3 linked regions of the Homo sapiens genome follow. The protein of the gene in region 3 purifies or fractionates together with the protein of the main gene of each other region. This does not show direct contact. Each region holds a gene or a part of one and is shown on either strand. Other genes may lie near its edges.

Region 1 (4,016 bases), on a different chromosome or scaffold from region 3:
AAATATGCCATTTTATATAAGGGACTTGAGCATCCATGGATTTTGGTATGGGGGCATTCCTGAAACCAATCCTCCATAGATACTGAGGGATGCCTATATAAGGCACAGCAATTTCAATTGACACACTAGCCTTTGTTACACATTGAGCTCTTCCTAGGATTTGCATTTTTAACTGAATTTTCATGGAGTTCTGCTCAGATTCCTGATTAAGGCAACTGAGCGGAATTGCTAACAAAGAGGGTAGGAATGTTCACATAATGATGGATGAGAGTAGAGACCACAACAAGACTTTATTATAACCCTTGCCCTGCCTGTTCTAAGTTCTGTATCTTAAATGGCCCATGGTGAGCAAGATCAGTTAGGTGACAAGCAACTGGTCTGTACATCTCAATCTTACTTCTATTCTTTCTCAGTACTGATTTCAGCAGAAGCCAGTGGCCCTCCTGGAAATGCTTTTTCCTTATGCTTTGGGCTAATTTAGAAAAGGCAGAAGTTATCAAAAAGCATACTGCAGAAAGCCTGTTTTGTTACCTGCATTTTGTTTTACATAGATATATTGTATTCTTAGTGGGCTTTCAATTCTATCCTTGCAGAAATAGACTATTGTCACCCAACTACTGTTTCCAGCCGAGACTCCCTGAAGTGCCTCTGGTTTTTGTCGTTTTCATCAGCCTCCTTTTCTGCTTCCTTTATTATTTACCTTGACTTAAAGCTTCAGACAAGCTAGGACAGATTCAGGCAAAAGTGAGGCTAGGGCTGAAATGGGGCCACAGCTGAGTTCCTTTTGTGTAGCTTAAGTGCTATGACAAACAGGCAAACCAGAATCAAGGTACAGGAGGTTTGTAGGTAGTCCTGATTGATGAATTCATTCTCATCACATCTTTCTTTCACACCCACTTGATGTGGATACCAAAGACTTATTAGGAATACAAAAACCACATTTTACCATTTGTATTAAACACAGAAACGAGCTCGATTTTTTAAAAACAGATTTATCCATTTTTTCAATATCCCTGAGCTGAACATTAACAAATGACATGAGTGAACTCTCATATACAATATTATACATTATTTGTCATTTTTCTAATTAAGCACAGGGGAGTTTATAGTTCTGATGTCTTTGACATTTTCCCTGGAACATACCAAACCCTAGAAATGTTTCCAAGAACACCTGGAATTTGGTTACTCCACTGCCATGTGACCGACCACATTCATGCTGGAATGGAAACCACTTACACCGTTCTACAAAATGAAGGTGAATATCCAGGTAGTAATTCTAGAAGCCATATATAAAAGATATAACTAAAGGAACTACTTTGCCTAAATACTTCCCCCAATATGATGCATCAATATGAAGCATTTGTGAATCTGCTGCCCTGATTTCTTCCTTCTCTACCTCCAAACAGGATTTTTTTCCTGCTAAATGGTGAGGGATACTGCTCATTTCCTGACAGCCAGTACTTGTAACAGCACCAGTCATTTCTAAGTTAATACAAATGTGTAATTATACTTAAAGCTGATATAAGGGAGTAGTCATGTTATTTACCAAGAAACAAACCATTATTTACATAAGACACATTTAGAATCTAATTTCTTTCTTAACAAAAAACAATTTTTTTTCTAGGTGGCACCTCCATGTAAGAGAAGCCCAAGACAACCCCAAATAATATAATTTCAAATAGGCAGTGTCTTTTCTGTGCTTCCAAGGGGAAGGAGGAACCTTACCGATAATTGTTTGTGAAAGATCCAGGGAAGAAACAAAATTTAAATGCACTGCTCCCCAACCCCTGCAATAACCCTCCCCATGTGTAGGTACACACACACACACACACACACACACTTAAAATGGAGAAAAATGAACAGTTTTTTTGGTAAGATTCCTGCACTGTGGCTGCAGGCTTTGGTCTTTCCTGGGTCTTTCGAGTTGAGGATTGTTGTAATTAGAAATGGTAAATTCAAAGGGAGGAAATTATGTAAAGAAAACCAATCTATGTCTTTCCTCCCTAAAATGGGGAAAAAGGGAACATACAAATGAAGAAAATATAAATGTAAATATATTTGAAGATTTAAAAAGCCCTGAAAGGTTAACCTTTAGTGCAAATGGAAAGTTTTAATTTCTGCTCCTGGGTCTTACACAAACAACTTACATCATGAAAAACTATTTCCATTAATGCCCTTTTTATTAGAGCAGTCACTGATAACACTAGAATATCAAAGACTCTAACAGACAAGCCACTAAATTTAACGCCAATAACTTGAACAAAGTGAAGAGAGCCAAATATGAGAAAGAAAACTTTAGTCTTTAAATAACACTTGCAACCATGTGGTTACATGTGGTTGCATGTAAACCACACAAAAGGATGGTCTTGCTCAAAAAAATAATGGTGAGTAAGTAACATGGAGGCATTTGGGGAATTCATGTGTGCAAATGCCTGGCATGCAGAGTATGGCACTACAGGGTAACCCTACACACACAGCCACAGAGAAGATTCCTCCTGTGTAACAACCGTGAAAGAAGAGGGAGATTACTGCTTGGTTAAGAAAGGCGAGATAGTTTTTAAAGCTATAGTAAAAATTACAGAACAAATAGCAAATATGAAGTAAAAATCAACACTAGATAAAAAATTAAAGAGAAATTTGACTTTTGCAAAGAGAAAAGGTATTGCATGAGACTGAAAGCAGCAGACTGAATAAAAAAAGATAGTTTGAACTATCTTTGGCCCATAAAATCAGTGGCCATGTTTATCAGTCTGAATCATCTTTAAATAAGTCCAATAAAGCTTTGAGCAAGTTTACATTAATTATGAGTCTTAGAAAAGCCTGCTTAGCTTTAAATTTCTTACAGGCAGGGACTATATATTCTGTATTTCTAGCTAAGTACCCAAATCCAATACAATAGTTTGCTTACTGAATGTATAACAACATATTAATTCAATGAAGAGAAACTTTTGAAACTTTTTTGACATAATTTCAGATTCCCATATACCTTTCACCCAGATTCCCCAAATATTAATGATGTGCGTAGCCACATTGGCTTTCTCATTCTTTTCCCTATCTCCCTCTCATGCTCACCCTCTATATGTACACACACAGACGTGTATAGATACACATACAACTATCTTTCCTAAAAACAAGAATATTCTTGTACATGACCACAATACAATGATCGAAATTAGAAAAGCAACAATGATTTAAAAACTAGAGATCTTCAAATTTCGCTAATAATCCTAATCATGTTCTTTACAGAAAAAGAAAATCCCGGATCATGTACTGCATTGTTGCCATGTCTTTTAAGTCTCCTTTACTCTGAATAATTCCTTAATAAAGGGCACTTTGTAGAATGTCCTTCAATTTGAGTTTGTCTAATGTTTCCTTATGATTAGATTTAGGTTATGCACTTTTGGCAAGACTATCATGGCATGATGTTGTGTTTTTCTTAGTACACCATATCAGGAGGCACAAGATATTGATCAGTTCTATTACTGGTTATGTTAACTTCAAGCTTTGGTTAAGATGGTGTCTGCCAGGTGTCTCCATTGTAAAGTTATTCATTTTCCCTTTACAATTAATAAAGATCTTGTAGGGAAGAAAGTAATCTTTCTTTAAATAAAGCAGCAATAGAATGAGAGATTTTTAAACATATAAAAAGCAGAAAAATATAAATGAATCAGGAGTAAAGTAACATTAAAAATTGGAATACATTTAAAGAACCATCTACTAATTTCTAACCATATATTATTTTTAATAATGGTCTTAAAATTTCTTTTTCTATAGACACCAAATCTGGCTGAATGAAATAAATTGGTGATAAGTGGAAAAAAGAGAAAAACCAATGATTCATAACAATGTATGTGAAAGTGTAAAATAGAATGTTACTTTGGAATGACTATAAACATTAAAAGAAGACTGGAAGCATACAACTTTGTACATTTGTGGGGGAAAACTATTAATTTTTTGCAAATGGAAAGATCAACAGACTATATAATGATACATGACTGACACTTGTACACTAGGTA
Region 2 (5,100 bases), 1.8 Mb from region 3:
CTTTGATATGGCCCTAGTAAATATTGGCATAATCTTAGTGACTCTGATGAAATCACTTTCACATGAAGTGACCCCCCACAGTACTAAGTGTTTACAAATTTCACTAACAGAATTTTTGCTTTCTGCAATAGCATGTTTCACTTTTTATCTATATTGTGAAACATTCTGGTAAGTCTTGTTTAATTCTGAACTTTTGAAAGCCAGTGTGATTTATTTTCAGGAAATCTTTGCTGCTTCAGGCACCTTACCTCTGCCAACAGAGTTGACAATATTCATTCATACATGTAACAGATATTTTTTGAGGCTTACTTTGTGCCAGGCATTGGGTTCAATATTGAATTTGAACTTACAATGGAACCCAAAATAGACACATCCTTGCCCTCATGTAACTTTCGTTGTAATGGGGATAGCTAATAAGATACTGCTTTGTTACAAAGTTTATTAAAGTAGGTATTTGGATGCCTTCACTATTACTAGTCTTTCACTAAAACCTAATTTGGCTCCCTAGAACAGTTATTCGTATACCAAGTACATTAATGGATCCTAAATATCATTGACATAAATAAGTGCTCGTACAGGATGCTAGGAACTATCTCAAGTTGCTGTTTTCCTATTGTGTTCTGGAGAATCATGGGCTTTAACAGCTCTGTTGGGCATTTTATATTTTCACAATTTCATTTCTTTGGCATTTTTATTTCTATTCTGTACTGACAGACTCATCCATGTCAGAAAAGCTCAGTATATTTGTTAGTATTTTTTTAAATAAATTTACCTTTTAAGAATATGGTTTGCAGTGTTTATTCAAACTAGTCAGGCATGATATTGTTCATTTCACAGTAGTGAATTGACTTAAATAGTAAACATTATTGAGCTGGTTTAGGAAGCTGATCTGGTTATAAGAGATTTCTGTATCACTAAAAATATTGCCAATGAAAAAGTTTGAGCTTGAGTCAATGAAAAGAAATTCAACCCTTTTAATACTAAACCCAGAGACCCACATGACATCTATAGATAAACTAATCTAGAAGTTAACTGTACCTCTTAGGATGATATCAGTGCAACAAATTGAGCGTCCTTTCAGACTTTGAAAATTCAAACACAAACGAAAACAGCAAAAGATATATAGTCAATGGGTTAATTACTCAGAAACTGCAACTGCAATAGGAGACAGCATCACAGACTCACTCAAACTAATGTCCTTGGGTTCACCTCGGGTGGTAGCCTGTCCTTTGTGACACTTACCAAAGTTCCAGAGGAAGCATTTTTTCTCCATGCATTTCATCCCACCTCTCTTTCCTTTTGTGGGTTGGTTACCTCCTCATCTGTAATTGCTTTTGTAGGGGTAAAGATAGAGGGGGAGGTTTGCCTCTTCCACTTTTGGGATGGGTAAAGGTGATATCCCCTGCATTTAATTTGGACGCTTAGAACACATTGAAGCACTTAGATTCTACAGCAATATAAATATAAATAATAATAATATCATGATAACAATTAAAATTTGAGTGCCAACAATTTGGTGGTACTGTTCTAAATATTTGACATGTATTACTTGCTTTAATCTTCACAAAAATTTTATGAGGTTTGTGGTTATCACAGTTTACATCCCATGTTTACTACCTATTTTTATGCATCATTTTAAGAACTTCATCTCATATTTAAATTATTTCTATGAAAAATTGTACTTTAACTTCTAAATAACATATAACTTTTTGAGTACATTTTGTCCATGAGTTAGAGAATTACTCTATTGAAATTTAGTGATATTCTTTTTATGGTATCGAAAGATTCATTATTATTCATGCCTGTTTAAAAATCTTTATCTTTGACTATCAGTCCTGGAAAAAAGTCATTCTTATTCTTCATTTTCTTCCCCGGCCCTTTTTTTTTTTTTTTTTAAATGAAAAAGTTTGCAGGGTTTGGCACAGGAAAATAGAAAGGTGAGCAGATTGGTTGAAAGACTCAGGCGCTTTGGTCTTAGTAGTGACAGAGACTTGAAGTAATACTCACTAGACGTTTGCTAATAGATCTTATAAAGGCAGCATATACTAATATTGCCTTTAAGCAAAATTGTCTTTATTTTCCATGAAGGTTCTTTCAGGGCAAAGATCATGTCTAAATTTTTAGGTCCTGGATGCCTGGCACAATTCTGGACATTCCCATAAAAGTCACTTCATTAAGCAAGTATTATAAAATCTGAAGAAAGTATCATTCAACAAGGGCTGGCACAGTCATAGTTCCACATGGCACTCCTTTGATAAGGTGATATAAACAGTAAGTGGTGGTGATTCTGCCTCCCTGGCTAGCCATGTATGATCTATCTCAATTAAAACTTGAGAAAATATCAACTCAAAATGGATTAAAGGCTTAAATGTAAGACCTGAAGCTGTTAAACTAATACAAGAAAACATAGGGGAAAAGCTCCATGATGTTGGTCTAGGCAATGAGTTTTTTGGACATGACGCTGAAATTACAGGCAACAAAAGCAAAAAATAGACAAATGGGATTGCATCATACTAAAAGGCTACTGCACAGCAAAAGAAAAATTAACAAAGTGAAGAGACAACCCACAGACTGGGAGAAAATATTTGCAAACCACATATCTGATAACAGGTTAATATACAAAATATGTAAGGAACTCAAACAACTCAATAACAAGAAAACCAATAACCGATTTAAAACATTAGCAAAGAACCCAAACAGACATTTCTCAGAAGAAAACATACAAATGGCCAACAGGTTTATAAAAAATGTTCAGCATCAGGAATCATTAAGGAGATGCAAATTAAAACCACAATGAGATATCACCTCACACCTGTTAGAATGGCTATTGCCAGAAAGATTGAAAGATAAGCATTGGCAAAAATGTGGAGAAAAGGGAACTCTTTTCCACTGTTGGTGGAAATATACATTAGTACAGCCATTATGGAAAACAGTATGGATGTTTCTCAAGAAACTAAAAATAGAACTACCATATGATTTAACAATACCACTTCTGGGTATATATCCAAAGAAATATAAATTAACAGGTTGAAGGGATGTCTGCCCTCCCATGTTTACTGTAGCATTATTCACAGCTACCGAGATGCTGAAACAACCTAAGTGTCCATCAACAGATTAATGGATAAAGAAAATGTGATGTATTTACACAGTTGAATACTATTCAGCCTTAAAAAGAGAAGGAGGGGAATTCTGTCATTTGTGACAACATGGATGACCCTGGAGAACATTATGTTAAGTAAAATAAGCCAGGTACAGAAAGAAAAATACTGCATTATATCATATATGGAATCTGAAAAAGTTGAACTCACAGAAGAGTAAAATGATGGCTACTAGAGGCTGCAGGGAGAAGAGGAGGGAGGGAATGAGGAGCTGCTGGGAAAATAGTGCAAAATTTCAGTTAGACAGGAGGAATGTTTTGAGATCTATTTTGCGTCAGGGTGACTATAGTTAATCATGTATTTTATATTTCAAAATAACTTGAGTAAATTTCAAATGCCTCAGAAAAAATGATAAGCAGTGAGATGGTAGAGGAGTTCATTGATGATTTTATCATTCCCCATTATATATAGATATCAAACTATTCCATTGTGCCCCAGAAATGTATATAATTATAATTTGCCAATTAAAAAACAGTACATTTTAAACCAGAAAACACTGTACATGGGTGATTTTCTTTCACTGTTTCCTAACAAAATACACGTCTTAATGACTACTGAAGTTATACTGTATAAACCGAAATCAAATTATGCAATCTAATGGAGAGGATATATTGGATGTGTATCATTATTTATGTCTCTATCATCACACATGTTTTTGTCAAACAGATCCCCGAGCCATTTAAATGCATTTGAAGTCCAACAGATTGCATTATCTTGTATAGGAAAATTTCTATTTCAAAGATTAGTAATTTATCTTTTTAAAATTATAAAAAGTAGATATTTATATATTAATTTTTAGTATGGCCAAAAGAGTTTTATGGTGCTTGTCTGCTATAGTGATGTGTTAGCAAGAATTTTTTTTTCATGAATGGAATATAATTTTCTAATTTTCTTATTAAATCCCAGTAAGAAACTGAAGGCTTATTATTGGACAATTGTAAGAACTGTAATTTAAATGGGAAATTTCACTATCAAGTACTCAATGCTATTTTGTGTTAACCATTGTGATATACATTGCTTTAAGTGCTTTTATAGCACTTCATTTGTCTTAGTAAGGCTAAAGAGAGCCTTTTAAACAAATAAATTAATAATGAGCTTTGCAGTATCATGTAGATGGAAAATGGAATGCCAATGTTTTCTATAGGATATATACTAGATATTACATTCCAATTGCCACCAGGATATAATTCCTTAGATATATTTGCTAAGAAAACTTAAAAGGAACACTCACTTCAATGTTAGCCTAGTCAACAATCCAACCATGTATTTTGTTATTTATATTTTTTAAAATCTAGTATGCAATTGTCAAATAAAAGTATTTTCATTTTAAAACCAATTATTACCTAACATTTGCAGCAGAACTGATAATATCAAAATAACAAATTTACTTTCGTGTAGTAAAATTTGAAGACTGAAATGGTTATTCTAAGACTGTGCTCTTGCTATTGTATTTTTTAATAGATAAAAAAATCACAGTTATTTCCATATAAAAATATTTTCACTCATAAATGGGAGTCGAACAGTGAGAACACATGGACACAGGGAGGGGAACATCACACACTGGGGCCTGTCGGGGGTTGAGGGCTAGGGGAGGAATAGCATTAGGAGAAACACCTACTGTAGATGGTGGGTTGATGGGTGCAGCAAACCACCATGGAACATGTATACCTATGTAACAAACCTGCAGGTTCTGCACATGTATTCCAGAACTTAAAGTTTATATATATATAAAAAAAAACAAAATAAAACCCACATAGGAATTCAGCTGCATCAGCAGATATGAATGTGAAAGACATGTATAACTACATAACACTCCTTGTATATTCCAATAAATCTTTCTAAATCAGCTTTCAAAAAAAAGTTATGTAAGTTTCACTTCTCTAAGATGAAAAACACAATTTGTTAAATGTAAACATATTTAAACAATTCATATGTGATTTCA
Region 3 (5,952 bases):
TGTTATAATAATAGTTGAAAGTGAATTAAATGAAAATATATATTTCATATATTAATATATAATATGAAATATGATTTATATATTTATATATTTCATATATATGAGAAATTTAAAATATACATTATTTAAAGGTAAATATTAGGTTGTTTTATTATTATTTTTAGCATGATAGTATTCATTTGAAAGAACATCTTAGTTTCAAAAATTTCTCTGAGAATAAAGGAGAAAATGCAAAACAAAGAATAATGAAAAAATATCTTTGGAAAACATGACAGTCATCTTCACCTTTAAGACTTTGAGAATTAGAAATCTGATCAGATATAGATTAATTTATTAAAAGTGAGAGTAAGAAGTTTAAGACACTTATGCCTAATGAATTCAATTTTCCTTTCAAATACGTATGTTGTTGTTATTATTATTATCAATATTATTATTTTGAAATTGACTACTGAGTGAGATGAGTTGGTTCCTTCAGAAAACAAATATTGGGGCAATTTATTGTAGGTTAATGAGAGAGGTATTGCATCAAATACGTGGAAAAAACTTGGTGAGCAATGTTGTACTCCAAATTTAGAAAACAAAAAAATCACATTTTTTCTATATATCTAGGTTTTGATAAAGAAACATGATATAAAATTTAGGGATTTATAGGATTGAGATATTAGCAAGTAGAGTTACCCAAACCCAGAAGTTCACTGGAATTGTTTGAGTTATTGCAAGTATATAGTGAATGAAAAATATGAAGTACTGGCTTAGAGGAAAATAAAATAAATTTTAAAAGGAACACATAGAATAAAAGGACATAAAAATAGGAAGGACCCACAGATTTCTGTAAGGCCCAAGTGTGGATATCTATGATTCAACCCTTGATTCCATTCCAAAATATAAATAAGATTATGTCTTTCTCCAATGTCATCCATCTCAAATCAAAGACTTAACATGGGCCACAAAGCTTTAGTTACCTGCGTATCCCTTATGCTGTGACGTAATTTATTTTGATCCACTTGCCTTCTCTGTCCATATTGGTCTCCTTGAATTTGTCCCTAATGAAACAAACATGTTTCTATCACAATAAATTTGCATTTGCTATTTTCTGCTGGAAAATTTATTTCTCCATATTCGCTCTCATGCTTAGTTCATATCTTTCATAAAATGTCACTATGTCAGAGAGTCTCTTGTTGACTATCCTGTTTAAATTTGTTTCTGTGCCCTAGACATGCTTATACTTCTTTAGCACACTTATCATTGCCTAAGATATGTACTATTTATTTACTTTGTATCTGCATCTCCCAACTACAATGTAAACTCTCCAAAGACAGGACTTTTGTCTCTCTTTGTCTGCAGCATCTAGAAGAGGACCTGACAGCTGGGGTCATTCAATAAATATTTCTTGAATAAAAGTCATTGCTGAAAAACTAATGGAGGGCATTAGATGGTTTACATGCAGAGTGCCTACATACTGCTGTAGAGTGACATGGTGGTTATCTTCTGACCTACAGGGACTGAGATAAAAAATGTGAGTGCTTTGGAGGCTTAGCAACTGTGGTGTGGCAAAGGAAACCATGGGCAAATCAAATCTTGGCATAAATAGCTCTAATAATAAGTGAGTTTGAGTACCATGTTTGTAACATATAAAATATGACAGACTAAATTATAAATAAGGACCTCTGACATTATGGGCTTCAATCTGTGCTAGTCAAACTGGGAAAGAAGATGATGAAAGAAATCATTATTCCTATAAATAGAAAAGAGAAAAATAAGGAGCATACATGTAAAAATGTGCTTGAAATTTATTGCTTTTAGAGAAGTGATTTCTATTATTCAGAAACAGTACTGAACACAGCTTAACAGTTTAAATTGCAATTATATCATCAAGTGACAATTGAAAAGGCAAGTATCCTGAAACAAAGAGTATACAGTAAATTATAGTGTTTTTCATTTGCATTGCTCTTTGATGATTCTTCAAAAAGTGGTAGTAGTGTGATATGGTATGAAAGATGAGAATATGGATGTAGAAGTCGTATTTGCCAATCAAGCCTGCACAGAAAAAAAAAAATAACAGATTATCTGTAAAATTTTTACCCCTGTAAACACATTTATATTCTGGCCTGGTACAGAGTAGATATTATATACAATTATAGTTTATAAAATGCAGGGCCCAAAATAATATTTGACACAGAGTAGACAATTAAACAATTATTAAATTGGTTCCTGAATAAATAAAAATTATCATTCAGCATCTACAATTTAAATTATTTTTCAATCATCATACTATTTTATTCTTCTACTTAAATATAGCCTACACATTTCATTTATATGCATTTCCTCTAAATAATATTTCAATACATCTTTTCTTGATTAAATGTCATCAGCTATTACCTAAAACCTAGGGGATCAAGTTCAGGCTCTTCCCTGTATCACTAATGGCAATAGAGAATTGAATTGGAATATAATCTCCCAAATGCACTGAAAAATAATTGAAATCCTTTGGACTATTTTAACTTTGTAGAACAATCCTCCCTTATCTCCAAGAGTTTGCTCTATTTTGTTTTGAAATATTATTTTTTCATAGAATTTAGAACATTTAATGTTGTGTAGAGATAGGTAAAACTGACTTTCTAAAAAGAAATTGATAACATTTCCATATTTTCTTGTTAGCATTATGTTAATAATTTCTATAGTAATTGCTCAGTAGAGTTACTTAGGGTACAAAATGCAAATTTCTCACAAGTTCCCAGATGGTTCCCAGATGGAAGCTTCTCCAAAGATTGCATTTTGGGAGTGAAAACTTTAAGCAACACCTAGGTACAGATTTAGTGGCAGGGAAGCCCTGCAGTTATAACTACAAACCTTTCTGATCAAGAGATTTTATGTGATATGTCTTTCAAAAGTGTCACCAATTCTAAAAAGCACATTTAAGTGTTATCATAATACACAATTTTTTGACGAGAAAACTGAGGTTCAGGAGCATTAGGAGTAGTTCAAAGTCATGAAACTAGTAGTTGTCAGGGCCAGCATACAAACCCTGGTGTCCCCCACTCTATAACACTGCCTTCTAACCATAGCAGGACAGAGACTATCTCAGAAGCATTTATATAAATTAATACATTTCAAGGAGCTATACAGCTGGCTGCTTTCTTATACTGGAACTGCTGTTGGTTTAATGTCTTGTTTTTGTTTTTCTTCTTTTAACTGTCAGCACTGATACAGAAAGTAAAAAAAATGTCACTAAACCCATCTTACCTCAATAATCATGTCCTGCAGTTACTGATGATATTAAAAGGTATATTGTTGGTATTGTGGTTGGTATGGTTGTGGGTATAGTGGTTGTTCTGGAACTGGCTGATAAGGGCCATACCCATACTGTATACACACAAGGAGAAAGAAAATTGCAGAAAATTGAGATAATGACAGTGCAAGCGTTTTTATTAGAAGCTTAGATTGTTAAAGTTTTAGGAACTTACATATTACTTATAAGATTTTTTTCCAAACTTTCAATTAGATTTTTCTTTTTGGTTATAAACACATTTTAAAAGCAGGTAAAAATGATTGAGTGTTTACCTTTGTACTGCATGTTCACAGTTTTGTGGTTTTATTTCACATGCAGGAACACCGATTATAGGCTATCACTCCAAAGAGGTTTTAAATTTTCTTCAAAATACTACCTCCCAGCAACCATTTTGCCCACCTTTGAGTATTATGGGAAGGAGACATTTACTAAATTCAGCTTATGTGGTGTTTCTTCAAGTCACTCTTTTAATGAGCTTACTGTCTCTTACGATTCCTACATTCCTTAATACTTCTTCCTTCTGTTAACACAAATAACCATCATCCCTTTTAGAGTATCTTTTTATTTGGTGTTATTTTAATCCATGTATTCACTATATTAGTTAGGGGATCTTTTGCAACCCTATCACATTGACATTATATGTCAACATACTGGGACATCAAGATACATACATTAAGAAAAATGTTAAATAAATGAAATTTGCTATCTCATTTATCATGACCTGTTTAATTTAATGAGTTTATCACCGTCAAAAAAAATCAGAAGGTGCAAACTTACCATATTTTATGTGTAATTATCAGCCTTTATGCTCCATGAGGCATATATTATAATTAACAGAATTAGAATTTCAACTATTTTTTAGGTCAAAGTGATTACTTAGGAGATGATACTTGAGGGCTCAGGGAGTAACTGGTTTCTTCAGGTTGGCACTATGAGTTTCAACTTAAATGTTGTTAGGACACAATACATTTGTGACTGTTACCTGTGTATCATAAATAGAGGAAAACAAAGCACACTTTTGCAACTACTACACATATTTGAGAAATAAGTATTGGTTCTTCTAGAAGAATAAGTAATCAGAGAACACAATTTATTTGGACTACACAGCATTATCAGAGAACACTTACACCGAATCTTCCAATTCTACGCAAAAATTTCTGTGAAAAATGAAGAAAAGTTTAATAATTCAATACAAATGTAGGGAGGACAAAACTGAAAACAAGTTTTCCAGTGAATGAAAATGACTCACCTCTTCAGATGAATCAGCTCCCTTAGAAAACAGAAAATTAGACAATAGTTAGTATCTTAATGTTATAATTCCAGATTGAGTACAAAAATGAACTCAGCAGCTACAGTTGTGAGTAAACAGGATGTAGGCAAATCATCGATAGACACTAAATTAGTTATTTTTGCTTCATGACATCTTTAAAATGAGTTAAGAGTATGCTTTTCTGTAATTAGTGTGCTATATTCAAATATAAATTTATTTGGATTTATACTTGTTTTGTGTGTAAAAGGGAGTAAATGGTTATCATTGGTGAATGAAAAGTGAAACTTTGTATTTTTTCATAAGAATATGTTTTCAGCAGCTCAAAGGCTACTTACACATAACTTTTATTTACTGACAGAGACAAGCATTATGTTTTTCTCTGTTTTCCTTACATTTTTATTTTTTATTTTTTAGACACCTATCCTTTTATAACAAATAATGTGGTATACTGTGATTTTATAATCAAATTAGTTTTTGAAATATCTGTTAGAATTTACCAGGTAAGTTGAACTATTTTTATTCTTTCATGGCCAGTTTCCTACTAATGTCATAGAAAAGGGACAGGAGAAATAGAAGGAAGTAGAGTAGAAGAAAGAGCTCCAGAGAAGTCAAGTGCTTTACCTAGTGATACATAGTAGTAAATGACAATAAAAGCTGGGAACTCATAACATGTCATAGATCTGAAGTTTTGTTTTATAGTTAAAAATAAGCAGCTTTATTTTAGAAAGTGTGTGCTAAATAATTGTATACTAATTTTAAGTTAGTTTTTGCAAGGAATGACTTGAAAATTTCTACTTTGACATCTTCTAATACTTGAATTCCACTCAAGTGCACCTAGTTCATTCCTGAGATTTCTAACTTCAGATTGTCTAGAGCATTACATGTTTAAAGATACTTTTAGAAGCTCTCAGTTCCACATATTTAAGAAGTTCAGTAAAACTTTCTTTTATTTCACACTAAGCTAAATATACTTTAGTGTCTGTAGATGAATAATGACTATTTATTCTAAATCCTTATATAGCTTATGTAGGTTAGTACAAAAAAAAGTTCATATGGAAACATTTAAACATATAAAGCTGTATTCAAGTAAACACCAATATATGCCAGAACACAAGGAATAGAGAGACTCTTGGGATAGGTACTGAGAACATATTCTTCAAATGTCCTGATATACTTACAATCATGGAAACCATGAGAGCCAAGATGAAGGCAAAGACAAGGAACTTCATAGTTGGCTGGGTTCTCTGAAAACATATGTGGAAATTCAGTATCACATTTTTTCTTGCATTCGCCCATCAAAAGTTTATTGATTATACTACGCTCCAAAGCACTGGGAGACACACTCCAGATAGAAAGACAATTAAAACCCATTGCCTGACATCATGAAACTTGG

What was found. The genes of interacting proteins can lie anywhere in the genome.
Region 1: the proteins of STATH (region 3) and CP purify together in Homo sapiens (affinity purification with mass spectrometry, with the first as the bait; one large-scale study listed by BioGRID). This does not show direct contact.
Region 2: the proteins of STATH (region 3) and GC purify together in Homo sapiens (affinity purification with mass spectrometry, with the first as the bait; one large-scale study listed by BioGRID). This does not show direct contact.

What each region holds. Positions count from the first base shown.
Region 1 is NC_000003.12:149,173,489-149,177,504, reverse strand, and holds part of CP (ceruloplasmin precursor), read left to right. Parts: intron 1-1,092; coding exon 1,093-1,255; coding exon of another isoform or gene 1,256-1,267; intron 1,268-1,624; coding exon of another isoform or gene 1,625-1,641; exon of another isoform or gene 1,642-3,774; coding exon 3,775-3,791; coding exon of another isoform or gene 3,792-3,795; 3' UTR 3,796-4,016. UniProt on the Homo sapiens protein: Multifunctional blue, copper-binding (6-7 atoms per molecule) glycoprotein. It has ferroxidase activity oxidizing Fe(2+) to Fe(3+) without releasing radical oxygen species. It is involved in iron transport across the cell membrane.
Region 2 is NC_000004.12:71,773,155-71,778,254, forward strand, and holds part of GC (vitamin D-binding protein isoform 1 precursor), read right to left. Parts: intron 1-5,100. UniProt on the Homo sapiens protein: Involved in vitamin D transport and storage, scavenging of extracellular G-actin, enhancement of the chemotactic activity of C5 alpha for neutrophils in inflammation and macrophage activation.
Region 3 is NC_000004.12:69,998,274-70,004,225, reverse strand, and holds the end of STATH (statherin isoform a precursor), read right to left. Parts: intron 5,804-5,952; 5' UTR 5,789-5,803; coding exon 5,738-5,788; intron 4,560-5,737; coding exon 4,539-4,559; intron 4,447-4,538; coding exon 4,417-4,446; intron 3,364-4,416; coding exon 3,277-3,363; 3' UTR 3,244-3,276; intron 2,038-3,243; 3' UTR 1,656-2,037; downstream 1-1,655. UniProt on the Homo sapiens protein: Salivary protein that stabilizes saliva supersaturated with calcium salts by inhibiting the precipitation of calcium phosphate salts. It also modulates hydroxyapatite crystal formation on the tooth surface.